Homo sapiens: one gene and its partners. The protein of the gene in region 3 purifies or fractionates together with the protein of the main gene of each other region. This does not show direct contact. Each region holds a gene or a part of one and is shown on either strand. Other genes may lie near its edges.

Evidence for each region. Proteins that work in one complex are often made in the same cells at the same time.
Region 1: the proteins of AHSG (region 3) and POTEF purify together in Homo sapiens (affinity purification with mass spectrometry; 3 studies listed by BioGRID and IntAct, with this or other methods). This does not show direct contact.
Region 2: the proteins of AHSG (region 3) and PPP5C fractionate together in Homo sapiens (co-fractionation; one large-scale study listed by BioGRID). This does not show direct contact.

Annotation. Positions count from the first base shown.
Region 1 is NC_000002.12:130,122,723-130,127,334, forward strand, and holds part of POTEF (POTE ankyrin domain family member F), read right to left. Parts: intron 1-4,612.
Region 2 is NC_000019.10:46,383,975-46,388,280, reverse strand, and holds part of PPP5C (serine/threonine-protein phosphatase 5), read right to left. Parts: intron 3,478-4,306; coding exon 3,372-3,477; intron 1,189-3,371; coding exon 1,046-1,188; intron 916-1,045; coding exon 828-915; intron 1-827. UniProt on the Homo sapiens protein: Serine/threonine-protein phosphatase that dephosphorylates a myriad of proteins involved in different signaling pathways including the kinases CSNK1E, ASK1/MAP3K5, PRKDC and RAF1, the nuclear receptors NR3C1, PPARG, ESR1 and ESR2, SMAD proteins and TAU/MAPT.
Region 3 is NC_000003.12:186,617,989-186,623,093, reverse strand, and holds the end of AHSG (alpha-2-HS-glycoprotein isoform 2 preproprotein), read right to left. Parts: intron 4,559-5,105; coding exon 4,457-4,558; intron 3,238-4,456; coding exon 3,154-3,237; intron 2,509-3,153; coding exon 2,164-2,508; 3' UTR 1,776-2,163; downstream 1-1,775. UniProt on the Homo sapiens protein: Promotes endocytosis, possesses opsonic properties and influences the mineral phase of bone. Shows affinity for calcium and barium ions.

The DNA of each region.
Region 1 (4,612 bases), on a different chromosome or scaffold from region 3:
TCAGTATACAAATCGTTCACATCCTTCATTAAAATTACTCCTTGCTCTTTGATTTACTTATATATTTGTTTTGTTGCTATTATAAATGGAATTACCTTATTTTTCAGATAACAGTTTGTCATTGGTGTATAGAAGCCAATGTTAATTTTGTAACTCTCAACTTTATTGAATATAGTGTTTATCAGCTGTAATGGGTTTTTTGTGGAGTCTAAAACACAGACAATCTCACCCCTTCCCTTCCTATTTAGATGCCTTTCCTTTCTTTGCCTTGTATAATTACTCTGGCAAGTCAGTTACATATAACGTTCTCAGCATTTGTAATTTGACATCAAATCCATCTGTTGTAATACACTGATTGTTACTTTTCAACTCGAAAACATGGACATTTATCACTACTCTCCCTTTCTCTTGGTCTAGTTGTTATTTAAAAAAAAACCTATCAATGCAAACCAGGATATTTTTCTACAAAACAATTTCAAACACACTAAAAGGTTTTAATCTAACAATTTTTAAACTTTCTTTGTCAATGACTTTGAACTGTGGTCTCTCGGAACAAATCCAACACCTTTAGTAGAAAAATTATGTTAATTCCTACATTATCATTGGGTCTAGCCAAGAGTTGACCAAAGGTGATATTAACAGATATGCTTATTTATTACCTTGTTCTCAAAGTTCTAGCATAAGTCTTGAAAAATCTAGTAAAAATTTGTAAAGACTATAATTGCACAAACTCCCTCTCTCATGAGTCACACAGTTAATCCAGAATACTATTTCTAAGTTATTGGAAAGCCAACAAGTAAATATGATGTAGTGTATAAAAATAATCCTAATTTCATTGTATATTCTGTAAGTGACATATGCAATTGATACTATTTACTAAATATCTCATAATTATATTTATTTACATAGAAAAAAGGAATAAAAAACATATCTATTATCTAACATTTAAATGATTAAAAATACTTGAGATAGCATTGCTACATAAATGCTATGTAAATGCTGAAGAAAGTAAAAATGTCATTCCCTACATTTGCTAAATATATTGTGACACATTATAAGCATTTTTAAAATATATCACTAATGGTTGGGTCAAGTCAGCAAAAATGATTCTAAGTATTTAATTGTGGAAAAATTTAGTACAGGGGATAGTATTCATGTGATGGAAGGATTTTAAATGGAACCCAGAGATTAGCAGCAGCAGTAAGTTTTAATTGCATACCAGGTGCAGAGTCTAGGATACAAGACAGAACTGCAGATAAAATCTGACTCCTTCCAGCATAGCTAGGAGACATGGCTAACTCCACCTGTCCGGAGACCTTACCTAGAAATCTAACGGCTCCAAACCAGGTAAACAAAACTATTTTCCAAAGTCAAAGCATCAATTTATGACATTAAAGCACTTCTAAAACTTAACCTCTGACTTAAGTTAGACCAAATGGATAAATTTTGAAGATATTTTTATTTTACCACTGACTTTAACACCATCTTTATTTCCCAAAGATTACTGAAGTCACATGAAATAAAAGGCATTAGAGCTTCTATTTTTCTTACAAAATATTTAAGAGCTTTCATTTTCTTTTAAGCCGAGCCATTATATATACATCACATACACAACACTTCTAGACAAGAAAAGATCTAGCAGTTGTTCAGTTTTTCTTTCCCACTTTATGAATCATAACACAACTTCCACAGACTATCTACAACATGATTAAATTTATCTGACCTGTCCTGTATTTCCCTCTTTTGTAATTAGTCATTCTACTTTAGGACAACAATTTGCCATATAAGATCCTCTCTCATATAACATTTCTTTCCTTCATAACATTTCTTACAATAAATACATCTTCATATCCACAATTTTCTTTAGATCTCTCTCCCCTACTAATTTCTGATGCCCATCCAAACCAAAAAGGTCAGACAACGCAAGGCAAAACAGAGCAGAGCCTTAGATTTTTGAGAGGGACCTGTCTGCTTAAAGTTCTTGGGGTTCCATGAGGAAAACAGAGGTTTCTCCTAAAATGGGGTTTGTGGAACCTTCTGTTTTTCCTTAAGGAGTCCCAGGTTGTCAGAAATTACCTTAGATCCTCTCATGTGGGCATCAAGAGTGGCAACAAGAGAGACTGGGGTAATAATTCAGACAACTGAGCAGAAAAAGAAAAACTTACTACTGTCCCCACTGTAATGATGGATAAACTGAGGCACCATGCAGTTCAAAAATTCATGTTCACATAATTAGGATCCACAGCTCACTCTCTTAAATAATTTTGCCACCTCTATGCCCAGTCACTGATGCACCTGTATGGTAGCTCATGGCCCCCTTGGAACTTAGAACCTGGGTTTCATTCCTGCTCTACGGCTATATAATTCAACAATTTTCCTTTGAATTTGTTGGACTCTAACCCTGTATATCTCAAATTTTATTAGTATTACTGAATCTTAAAGGGAGCTGTGACGTCTTTAGTCTTTAGAAATATTAAACCTATAAACAAGGACTATATGAGGTTAAACAGTATTCAAATTTCTATATGCTTTAAAACATGGACACAATGTATTGAGAAACACACCTACAAAACTGCACCCCATCAACTCTGGACAAAAATTTAGATATTATCTCTTCAATATAACCTATCTAGTGGTATTTATACATATTCTTCCATGTATCAACGGTATATTACATGCTCATAACCTTAAAAATAACAAGTGTTCAAATTATAGGCCTTACACATTTCTACGGGCTTGAAAAATGATACAATATAGATTGTCTTTAAAGCAGTCAAGAAAATGCATAAACTTCTAGAGGAATCAGTAAAATAAAGATAAAAAGTTCACACCTAAAGTAGTAATACTAGGAATAAAAGAGGGCTCGACACTGCAGGTTCTTAGATACAAAAGTTAATAAAGCCTTGTTTTTGGTTGTGAATCTTTGCCTTAAAATACACACAGCTGACCGAGGTGGGTGGATCACCTGAGGTCAGGTGTTCTAGGCCAGCCTGGCCAACAGGGTGAAACCCCATCTCTACTAAAAATACAAAAAGTAGCCGGGCGTGGTGGCAGGCACCTATAATCCCAGCTACTCAGGGGGCCAAGGCAGGAGAACTGCTTTCACCCAGGAGGCAGGGGTTGCAGTGAGCCAAGATCGGGCCATCGTACTACAGCCTGGGGGACAAGAGCGAGACTTCATCTCAAAAAAAAAAAAAATTACACACAATTCTCCCGACTTCCTTTTTCTCTTGCAAAGAGGTGGTGATGAACCAGGTTTGCTCAGGCAGATGACAATACTCTTGAAAATGGTGGCAGAGAGCCAGGCGTGGTGGCTCACACCTCCAATCCCAGCACTTTGGGAAGCTGAGACAGGTGGATCACTTGAAGTCGGGAGTTCAAGACCAGCCTGACCAACATAGAGAAAACCCATCTCTATTAAAAACACAAAGTTAGCTGGGCATGGTGGCACATGCCTGCAATCCCAGTTACTCAGGAGGCTGAGGCAGGAGACTTGCTTGAACCCAGGAAGCGGAGGTTGCAGTGAGCCGAGATCGCCCCATTGCACTCCAGCCTGGGCAACAAGAGCAAAACTCCATCTCAAAAAAAAAAAAAAAAAAAAAGAAAGAAAACAAAGGAAATGGTGGCAGAGAAAATGAAGGCAATACAGTTCACTTAATAATCTCATAAATTAGAACTTACCCCGTGACTCCTGCATAGCTCCAAATATGTGAGAGAGATGAAATGGCTGTTTGCCACCAATATTTTTATGTGATGCTTCATTTTTTGATTCTCTGAATAACTACTTACAACGCATTAGCCCATTTATGCCAGAGGCTGCAATTTTTTGAATTTTTGCACGAGTGAAAAATCAAACCTTCTAATGACCTTGAGCAGTAGGATGTAATTAACTCCCTCATGCTTACCATTCCAATAATGGAACACTAGGCATAAGTGGTTTAACACAATCGTGAAAGCATAGCTATTCAAGTAACTAATTATACAACTGATTTTTTTCCTCATCCCTAAAACATAGTAAAGGACCAGTTATTTTAAAAATACAACACAGTGACAATTTTGGCTTGTTGTTTGTTAAGGCCATTGCTTGGCATAAAGAAAACAAAAAGAGGAGGAGAAACAAGAATAGAAACATGAAATAGAAGCAGCAGCAAAAGAAAATGAAGAGGAACAAGAAGATGAGAAGAATACACAGACTAGAATAAGCAAAAAGAACAGGTGCAGGAATTAGAAGGCCTATTATGACACCTTTTATCCCCTCCCCAATTCACAAAATTTGAAAAAGTCCAAGACCATCACAACAAAAAAGAAGGAAAAAATGGCCGGGAGTGGTGGCTCACGCCTATAATCCTAGCACTTTGGGAGGCCAAGGTGGGTGGATCATGAGGTCAGGTGATCTAGACCATCCTGGCTAACACTGTGAAACCCCATCTCTACTAAAAATACAAAAATAAAATTGGCTGGGCGTGGTGGCAGGCGCCTGTAGTCCCAGCTACTAGGGAGGCTGAGGCAGGAGGATGGTGTGAACCCAGGAAGCAGAGCTTGCAGTGAGCCGAGATCACACCACGGCACTCCAGCCTGGGCAAAAGAGCGAGACTCTGTCTCAAAAAAAAAA
Region 2 (4,306 bases), on a different chromosome or scaffold from region 3:
CATCCAGCATGGACATGGACATTCAGGACAGGTGACTGTGATTCTGAGCCACCCCCACCCTCTCTGCTGATCTGCCCTCCAGACCCCATTCAATCCCCTGTGGCCCCGAAGCCAGATAGAGCTTTCAATGTCACTATTCAGATCAGGCCCCTCTCCCACTCAAAGCCTTTGGTGGCTCCGCACTGCCCTAGGAACAAAGTTCCTCACTGGGGCCTGTAAAGCGCCATAGGATTTGGGCCCAGTGAACCCCATGTCCAATGTCAGCCCTCAAAGCACAGCCCTGCCCACTCGCCAACTTCTCCCTGCCTTAGGACCCCTCCTCAAGCCTGGAATATGCTCGCCAGGCTCTGTGCACGGCAGATGCCTCTGCTTCCCGCAGTGTCAGCTCAAACCTCGCCTCCCTGGAGAGGCCTTCCTGAGCACCCAGCACCAGCCCACCCAATCCATGTCCTCTGCAGCACTCACAGTGTGCACGTGCGTGTGCACCTGTGGGTGAACTCTCTGAAGTGTGCCCGTCACTAGCACAGGAGCCCCAAGACCTCCCCTCCTTCCAGGGTTCCACAGCTGAACTCACAAATAAATAAGGACAGGTGTGCTCGGCGGTCACCGTGCCTTCACCCCGCACCATGGTCACGACCGTGCTTGCCATCACAGCCCCATGAAGGAGGTGCACTGGCCCAAGTCGCAGGTGAGGAAACTGAGGCTCAGACCCGCTGTTTCTTGCCAAGGGCACAAAGCCCATCCTCCGAGGCAGGGCTGGGTTGCAGGGGAGAGCTCAGCCCAGGCTGCCCCTTTCTGCTGGAGACACCTGGCCCCGCGCTGCTCACCTGAATCTGGGGGTTGTCGATTCCGCTCAATTTTCCGGATGTCATCCAGGGTGACACCGTCTTCACTGAACAGGCCTCCGTGCATGATCTGGGGAGATGGGGGATGCCGCTGTGAGGGAAGGTGCCACCCACCCACAGGCCCCAACTTCCTTCACCAGCACATCTGCCCAGGTGTGGCTGGGTGGGGAACCCACACTCAGGGCTCGCGCCGTCCTCACCAGCACTTTGCCGTTGATGCACTGGGCCAACGGGAGCCACTCGAACACCTCGCTAAAGAGCTCGTACATCTGGGCTGTGTACTTGGCCTTCACCTCACCCTCGAAACCGTAGATCTGGTTCATGTTGTCTGTCTCGTGGTTGCCTGGCCAACACGGGGACAGAAGAGAAAGCTCAGCCTCCAGGTACATCAGTGTCCTCCAGCCTGGCACCCTCAAGGCCCAGAACTGTGCATGCGTCCCTTGCCCCCATGGGCCTCGCACTTGCCACTGCGGTGCCTTCCAGACTGGAGGTACCAAGGGGGGAATCTTGACAAAAAGTAGGTCCATGGCTAAGCACCATGGCTCACGCCTATAATTCCAGCACTTTGGGAAGCCAAGGCAGAACTGCTTGAGCCCAGCAATTTGAGACCAGCCTGGGCAATATACTGAGACCTCTCTATAAAACAATTTTAAAAATTAGCTGGGCATGGTGGTGCGTGCCTATAGTGCCAGCTACTTGGGAGGCTGAGGCCAGAGGATCACTTGAGCCCACGAAGCAGAGGCTGCAGTGAGCTATGCTCATGCTACTGCACTCCAGCCTGGGCAACAGAGCAAAGCAAGACCGTCTCAAAACCAAAAAGTAGGCCCATCTACAGAACATGTGCCCCAGCCCACCCCACCCTGAGCTCCATCCTTCTGTCTCAGACACAAGCACCCGGCCTCCTTCTTCCCTTCCAGAGCTTGGGGGCAAGGAGAAGGCTGCCCAGTCTCGCATCTGCTCAGACTCTGCTTGTCTGACTTCTCGGCCTGAGCACTTGTTGCCTCCTGCAACGAGGCCCACAGTCGGGCTTCCTGAGCTTTGACCCTGTGCTGGACACTGCTGCGTGAACCCTGTGAGCCCAGGGACACGGGCATGCAGGCTTCGCCCCAGCCTATCACTCACCTCCCAACTCACCCCGGCCCCGCCATGGGCAGGGCCTCCCCTGTGTGGCCCTCACATCCCAGTGAGCTCCTCTTGTCTAATCTCATCTGGACACCAAGAAACCTACATTTTCAACACCCCTTGGAACCCCACCCACATCCCATGTCTCCTGAGTCTCAGCCACATCCAAAGGGGAGCTCCTCAGCTCCTGGCCACACCCTGCTCTACATGTTCCCGTCTTCGTCACTGGCAGCCATAGCCCTCCAGATACTCCGGCCAAAACCCTAGAGGGCCCCTTTCGTTCCCTCTTTGTCTCACACCTGTGTCTGTTCCTCCAGCAAATACTCTGGGCTCTACTTCCAAGTTTCTTACTTTTTTTTTTTTTTTCAAAGAGACAGGGTCTTGCTCTGTTGCCCACGCTGGAGTGCAGCGGTGTGATCATGGCTCACTGCAGCCTTACACTCCTGGGCTCAAGCAATCCTTCCACTTTGGCCACCCAAGAAGCTGGGACTACGGGTGCACGGTGCCACCATGCCTGGCTTTTTTTTTTTTTTTTAGACTGAGTCTCACTCTATCGACTAGGCTGGAGTGCAGTGGCGCAATCTCGGCTCATTGCAACATGTGCCTCCTGGGTTCAAGCGATTCTCCTGCCTCAGCCTCCCAGGCAGCTGGGATTACAGGCGTGTACCACCATGCCCGGCTAATTTTTGTATTTTTAGTAGAGACGGGGTTTCACCACATTGGACAGGCTGGTTTCGAACTCTTGACCTCAGATGATCCACCTGCCTTGGCCTCCCAAAATGCTGGGATTACAGGCATGAGCCACTGCGCCTGGCCTTTTTAAAAAATGTTTACTGGAGACAAAGTCTCACTGTGTTGCCCAGGCTGGTCTCAAACTCCTGGGCTGAAGTGATCCTCCTACCTGGGCCTTCCAAAGTGCTGGGATTACAGGTGTGAACCAGCACACTCAGCTCCGGGCTCTACTTCAATCAAGAGAACCCAAATCTGACACCAAGCCTGAATCTGAGGGGGCACAACTGCCTCGTCAACAGTCTCCTTACTCCCACCCTCGAGCCCTGGTCTGTTCACTCAGTCACTCAGCTTTAGTGCCAGATTTAGGGCCACCCAGGAGCCTGTTTCATGCCCTTGTGCAAATTAGAATAAGGGGCCCATCCTCACACCCTTGTTTGCCATCTGCTGAAAAATGGTCAGAGTAAACATCCATTTCTACACTATCTATGATGTAAACGCGTCCTTTGGTGTGATGCTTTTGTGCAGTGCACTACATACTCAATCTTAAAAGGTCGCCCTGTGCATGATCTCCGAGTCCACAAAATAAATACAGCTGCAACTATTATCCTTGCAGAGTGAGTGCCCCACTCAGGACCCCACAATGAACCCAAACCTTGTCACTTCCCAGCTCACCTCGAAGGAGGTGAAAGTGATCTGGGTACAGGAGCTTGAAGCCGAAAAGGGTGAGGATCACTTCTACAGAGAAGGAGCCTCGGTCCACAAAGTCACCATTAAATATCTGTCCTGCTGAGGAAAACATGGCAAGCGTGGAGGGGAAGGGTGCGGTGCGGTGGGGTTGGGGGTGGTGGCAGAAGATGGGCCAGATGGGCTGCTCCTGCCTGGCCTCAAGCCTCCTGTCAGCACCTCCCAGGGAGTGAGGACTTGGCAGGGCTCAAGGGATCTGGGTTTCTAATCCTTTCCTCACCGTGGCTCCAGCCAGAGCTTGGCCGCTGAGCCTCAGTAGTATGGCACTGAGGACCCTGCCTCCTGTCTCCCGGAAAGCCAGTGGCGGGGAGGTGCGGGGACTAGTCAGTCCACCTCCTTCAGCTCTCCTCAGAGAGGCCTGGAGCCATGGGGGAGATGGGACACGGGCCCTCCCACTCAACAATGCATAGGCCTAGTGGCCCTACAAGTGGCCGTTCATCGAGCAGATACCATAACACGGGGAAATACTTAGATAGCATCAGGTGTGGGCCAGGCCCTGTTCTTAACCTGTCCTCTCAGTAACTGCTGAGTAACAAGGTTGCACATATTATTATCCCTCTTTGCAAATGGGGAAACTGTGACACCAAGCAGTGAAGTAACCTGCTTCGGTCACACAGCTGGGAAGTGGCAAAGCCAGGATGGAACCCAAGTGTGGCCAGTGCCAGGTGCCATTCAAATGTGATCCTGAGGCAGACGAAGACAAGCCAAGACCCAGAGAGACTGAGCTACCAGCTTAGGTCACACAGCAGGTGGGTGCTGGCCCAGGCCTGTCCGAGCCTGGAGCCTGGGGTGCATGGCCAGCCTGCAGCTCCACCCACACCTTGGTGCCCCAGCATGGCCAGGCCTCTCCTTTCCAAGGTCAC
Region 3 (5,105 bases):
TTGTATAATGTGGGCAGAAAGAAGTGAAAGGTGAAGCAGCTTGGCTCAGGTTTTGCAGGTCTATGTGACTTCACTGCTTCTTTGAGAGACATGAGATCAAGGCATGCATTAGCCAGACACAGAAAAATAGACATAGAAAAATCATCTGCACGAATTTTAAGTTGGAGAGGAGGGAAACTGAGGTAATGCAAATGAAACAAACTAGAATTCACTGCCTCAGTAAATGCCCCCCCCCCACACACACACACACATCTATCCAGTTCACAAAGCCACAAATCCAGGAATCATCATCCTTCACGTCTTTCTCACTCCCATATCAAATTCATCAGCAGGTCTTGGGAGTTCTACCTCCAAATTATAACCTCTTTTTATCATGTCCACTGCCCACCACCTTAGACCAACTCATGTTAATCTTTTCTCTAGAAAGCTCTAGTGACTTTCTATCCTGTGGCTACTCTTGCCCAGCTACAGCCCACTCTCCAGTCTCCCTACAGCAACAACACCAGTAAACTCTTGACAACCAGGATGCCCCTAGAGCAACTGCATCTGCCAGTGGTCACCATGACCTCAGAGTCAGTCGTCCTTACTGCTCTTTCTACAGCATTTAGCACAGCTGCCCATAGCTTCTTCTCTGGCTTCCGTGACACCTAGTGGTTTTCTTACCTTTCTGGCCTTTCCTTTTGGTTACTGGAATATTGGCAAAACCTCTAGGCACAAGTGATAAGGTGAGTGTCAACACTTGATTCATTCTCCTTGGTTTAAAGTGAAGTCACTCAACTGGGTGTCAGTCCTGCCCTCTAAAATTCCATCTGAAAGGGCCCATCACTGAGGTAGATCGGAAAAACTTAATGCTGATGGACAAAAATTGAAATTGCCCAGGGACCATGCTAAAATGGGGAGGGTTTATTCACATATGCTATCTGAGCACTTGGACGGTGTCTACAAATGTCCACGGGATTCACCTGTCCAGGCATCCTTTATCTAATGATACTACAAGTCACAGCTTTAACTTGGGTCCTTAAAATAGATTGGCTAGGAAGACCAATCTTGTGTTATAAAATGAAGTGTATACAGTACACTCAACGTATATCTTAAACATAATTAACAACAGATATAAAGTGAGGATCTTGTTTTAATTACCAATCCCTCCTTACCTCGGTACTGGAGAAAATCAATGGATAGTTTATTCTGTACAAAGTTCAGGAGCTTGGCCCACCTTTAGCAATATTTTCTCTCTCTTATAAAATGAGAAGAATTATTTTCTCATAAAGAAATGGTCATATCTTGGCCAGGTGCGGTGGCTCACGCCTGTAATCCCAGCACTTTGGGAGGCCGAGGTGGGTGGATCATGAGTTGAGGAGATCAAGACCATCCTGGCCAACATGGTGAAACCCTGTCTCCACTAAAATAAAAAAAATTAGCTGGGTGTGGTGGCACGCACCTGTAGTCCCAGCTACTCAGGGGGCTGAGGCAGGGGAATCATTTGAATTTGGGAGGTGGAGCTTGCAGTGAGCCAAGATCATGCCACTGCGCTCCAGCCTGGGTGACAGAGTAAGACTCCGTCTCAGAAAAAAAAAAAAAAAGAAATGGTCACATCTTATGGGTTGTGGAAAGATCCTAGTCTCACTTTTTCCTGTATCTGGCAATACAGCAGGTTTTTGTTCTCTTTTGGTTCTCTTTTCACTTTGATTTTGATTAGGGACACTGTGTTTGTTGGGGTAAAAGGCTATGCATGTGAGGGGAGCTGGGATGAAGTCGCAATAAGCATGACCACATTCAGCTTAGAACCTTCTTTATTAAGGAAGGTCTTTCAGGCACTTTCATTAACAGGCACATATAAGCTTAGCAAGAGCACCTTTCAAAGTCACAGTTCCAATGGTTTTTGTAAGGTCAACCAGAGGCAGAGAACACAATCATGGTGGCTTACCGTCAAAATCATGACAAGTTGTCAACCTAATGCCTTCTGTCAAACATAACCACCACCCACTCTGCTTCTGTCCTGTGAGGAATGACGGGAAGTAGGGAGTCAAGACTTGATATTAATGTAGATCGCATGTGACACTTGCGTGGCCAGCAGACAAGGCCCCCCACCCATGCCCAGGCTTGGACAAAATGGTGGCTATGTTTTCTGTGCCAAACCTCCTCATCTCTGCCATGTCTAGCCTAGACCTTGAAGTGTCTGATCCTCCCCGGACATGGAGGAACCACTGGCCCAGCAGCAGCACCAACACTAGGCTGCACCACTGTGCGTGTTTTCCGGGGGTGCGACACTTCTCCTGAGGGTGACCCCAATGAGACCACACCCATGAAGGTGTGGCGCAGGTCGTAGTGCGCCCGGTGCAACTGGTGTCCTGGAGGAGCTGCCAGTAACACATGGGAGTCTGGGGGTGAGCCAGCTGGAGGGAGTCCAGGTGCGCCAAGTGGAGGGGACGGAGGTGCATCTGGGTCCACCACGGGTGTGGGGACTGCTTCATTGGCACCTTCTGGTTGGGGCTGTGAGCTCACGGGCTGGAAAAAGGACCATTTCCTTCAGTTAGTTTGCTTCCTCCTCCCAGGCAAGACAACCCACAGGCCCAGGTGGCACTGGCACCCAATTTCCTCACATTATACATTTTTATTTGCAAAGAGTCTAGCAAGAAAGGACCTACCCAAGTACAAGGGATTGTCATCAAGGTTACAAGGAGGGGTGACTGGCCTATGTTGGCCCCGGCCTCACTAGGATTGTCTTTGTGATGGTGGACTTACACGCATATGTCCAATGAGTAAAAGCACCCCACCTATGGCTCACCCTTGCCCAGCAGTGCCACCCTCTTTGTCATCTGAAGCTGCAGCCACTGGGAGCTAACAGGTAGATCTGGCCACCTGGTCTCTGCAACTCAGAAAACCACTCCCACCTCCCACAAATAAAAAGGTGGCTTTGTCAACTACACAGTAAGATGGTTCTTCCCTGTAGTCACTAGTTCGTGGGAGGGAAAGGCATAGCTAAAATATCCTTCCATTTGTTGATGATTCCGCATACCCCAGTGTTATTTCATACTGTGAGATTCAGAAGCACAGGAGAGCAAATGTCCTGTCATCACTACTGCACTGCATAAATGTGAAGGGGTCATTGTATTCTGAAGGTGTAGGCAAGAATATTCACGGAGCTGTTACCTGTGTTTGGAACACCATGCAGGTCACTGCAACCTCTGCCCCACCAAGCTTCTCACTGAGTGTTGCCTTACAAAAGCCATATTGCTGCCCACAGAGAAAGAGGATTTATTTTAACTAATTTCAAAAATGGATCCCCCCCAATTTCATTGACGCGCCAACCTTAAATTAGTTTGAAAAACCATTTTTCTTAAAGTTATAGTTTCTGCTTGTGGGAGGTATATGATTCTATATATAACATGGAAATACAGAAATACTTTGAGAGTGAGAGAGATTACCCATAATCCCTTTCTGGTGGTGGCCTAGAAAGAAGGACTGTTAACATTGATGCATTTCTTTCTTATTTTAAAATACTATTAAATATGATTTAAAAATTGAGATCATTGTGACTATACGATGTTGTATCCTGTGTGTTTTCACTTGCCATAATAGCATTTTCTCATATCATTCATTATTCCTTGAAAACACAATTTTTAGTGTCTGCACAATTTTCTATTTACTGATGTGCATGGATTATTCAATGACACCTTCCTGTTGGACATACAGATCTCTCTTTTTTGGTCTCTTTATATCCATAATAAATCATTTTTATAGATATATTCTGTCAAATGTCACTGATGAATTCTTTTTCTTTTTCTTTTTTTCTTGAGACAGAGTCTCGTTCTGTTGCCCAGGCTGGAGTGCAGTGGCACGATCTTAGTTTACTGCAACATCTGCCTCCTGGGTTCACACCATTCTCCTGCCTCAGCCTCCCGAGTAGCTGGGACTACAGGCGCTCACCACCAAGCCTGGCTAATTTTTTTGTATTTTTAGTAGAGACGGGGTTTCACCATGTTAGCCAGGATGGTCTCGATCTCCTGACCTCCCGATCCACCCGTCTTGGCCTCCCAAAGTGCTGGAATTACAGGCATGAGCCATCATGCCTGGCCACTGATGACTTCTTTAGACTAAAATCCTAGAAGTGTACATTATTGGCTCAAGGACTTGAAAGCTTTTGTATCAGAGTTATATGTCTAGAAAATGTGCACTTCACATTCCCAGTGGGTGGGCGTGACTTGGCTTCATTAGCAAATAGCCTCTCTCTTTCTCCTAACTTCATGTGCTTCCAGTGGGTGAGATGATTTGATGACAGCTCTTAAAGGGATGAGGTGACACCCTAAAAGAAGGCTTGCCGTGATCCACAGGGAGAGGGGATTTGCACTGTTATTCTCTGTCTGCAGCCCCAAGATACAAACTATCCAAGGATGTTCTGTTCCACAAACAGCTCTGTCCGAGTGGTAACACCCCAAGGTCCCGGCCCACTCACCTTTTCTGCCAGCAGGTTACACTTGGCTGCCTCTGTGGCCTCTTTAGCAACACAGTCAGTGCCAGACACTGTAAACTCCACATAGGTAGAAGGTGGGAGGGGCTGAGAAGAGTACATGAAAATGCTCTTGAGGAAAGATGACTTACAATGAAAAGGGCAGAGAAGGAGAGCGGGAAGTAGCCTCCTTCGGGGAGCACCATTCATGCAGACCATGCGTCGGCCCAGAAGACATGTCCCTCAATGGCTTACATAGGGCAGTTGCTATGGGGTTGTGTTCTCAAGTGCTTGTGCTTTAGAGGTAGGGGTTGTGTCTTCCTTGTAGGAGGGGCAAGTATCCATCACCGGTCCTTCAGGGTGGAGGTGAGTTTGCAGATAGGAAACCGGAATCAGAAGGCCAGCATTAGACTGATAGGAGTGGGAACCCTGCCTCCCCCCAGCCCTCACTCTTGGGCTGCACTTGATACCCAAGGTTCAGGTTATTCCAAAATAGGGTGGGAAAGTGAAGAGATTAATACCTCTTCCACCTGTTTCATAGAGCAGGCTCAAATGAAAAGATTTAGATGAAAGTATGGAAGATATCACTTGAGCTTTTCTTTTTTAAAGTAGTTGGAGCATATGGACACAATAAAATATCTGTTATTTGGTGTAG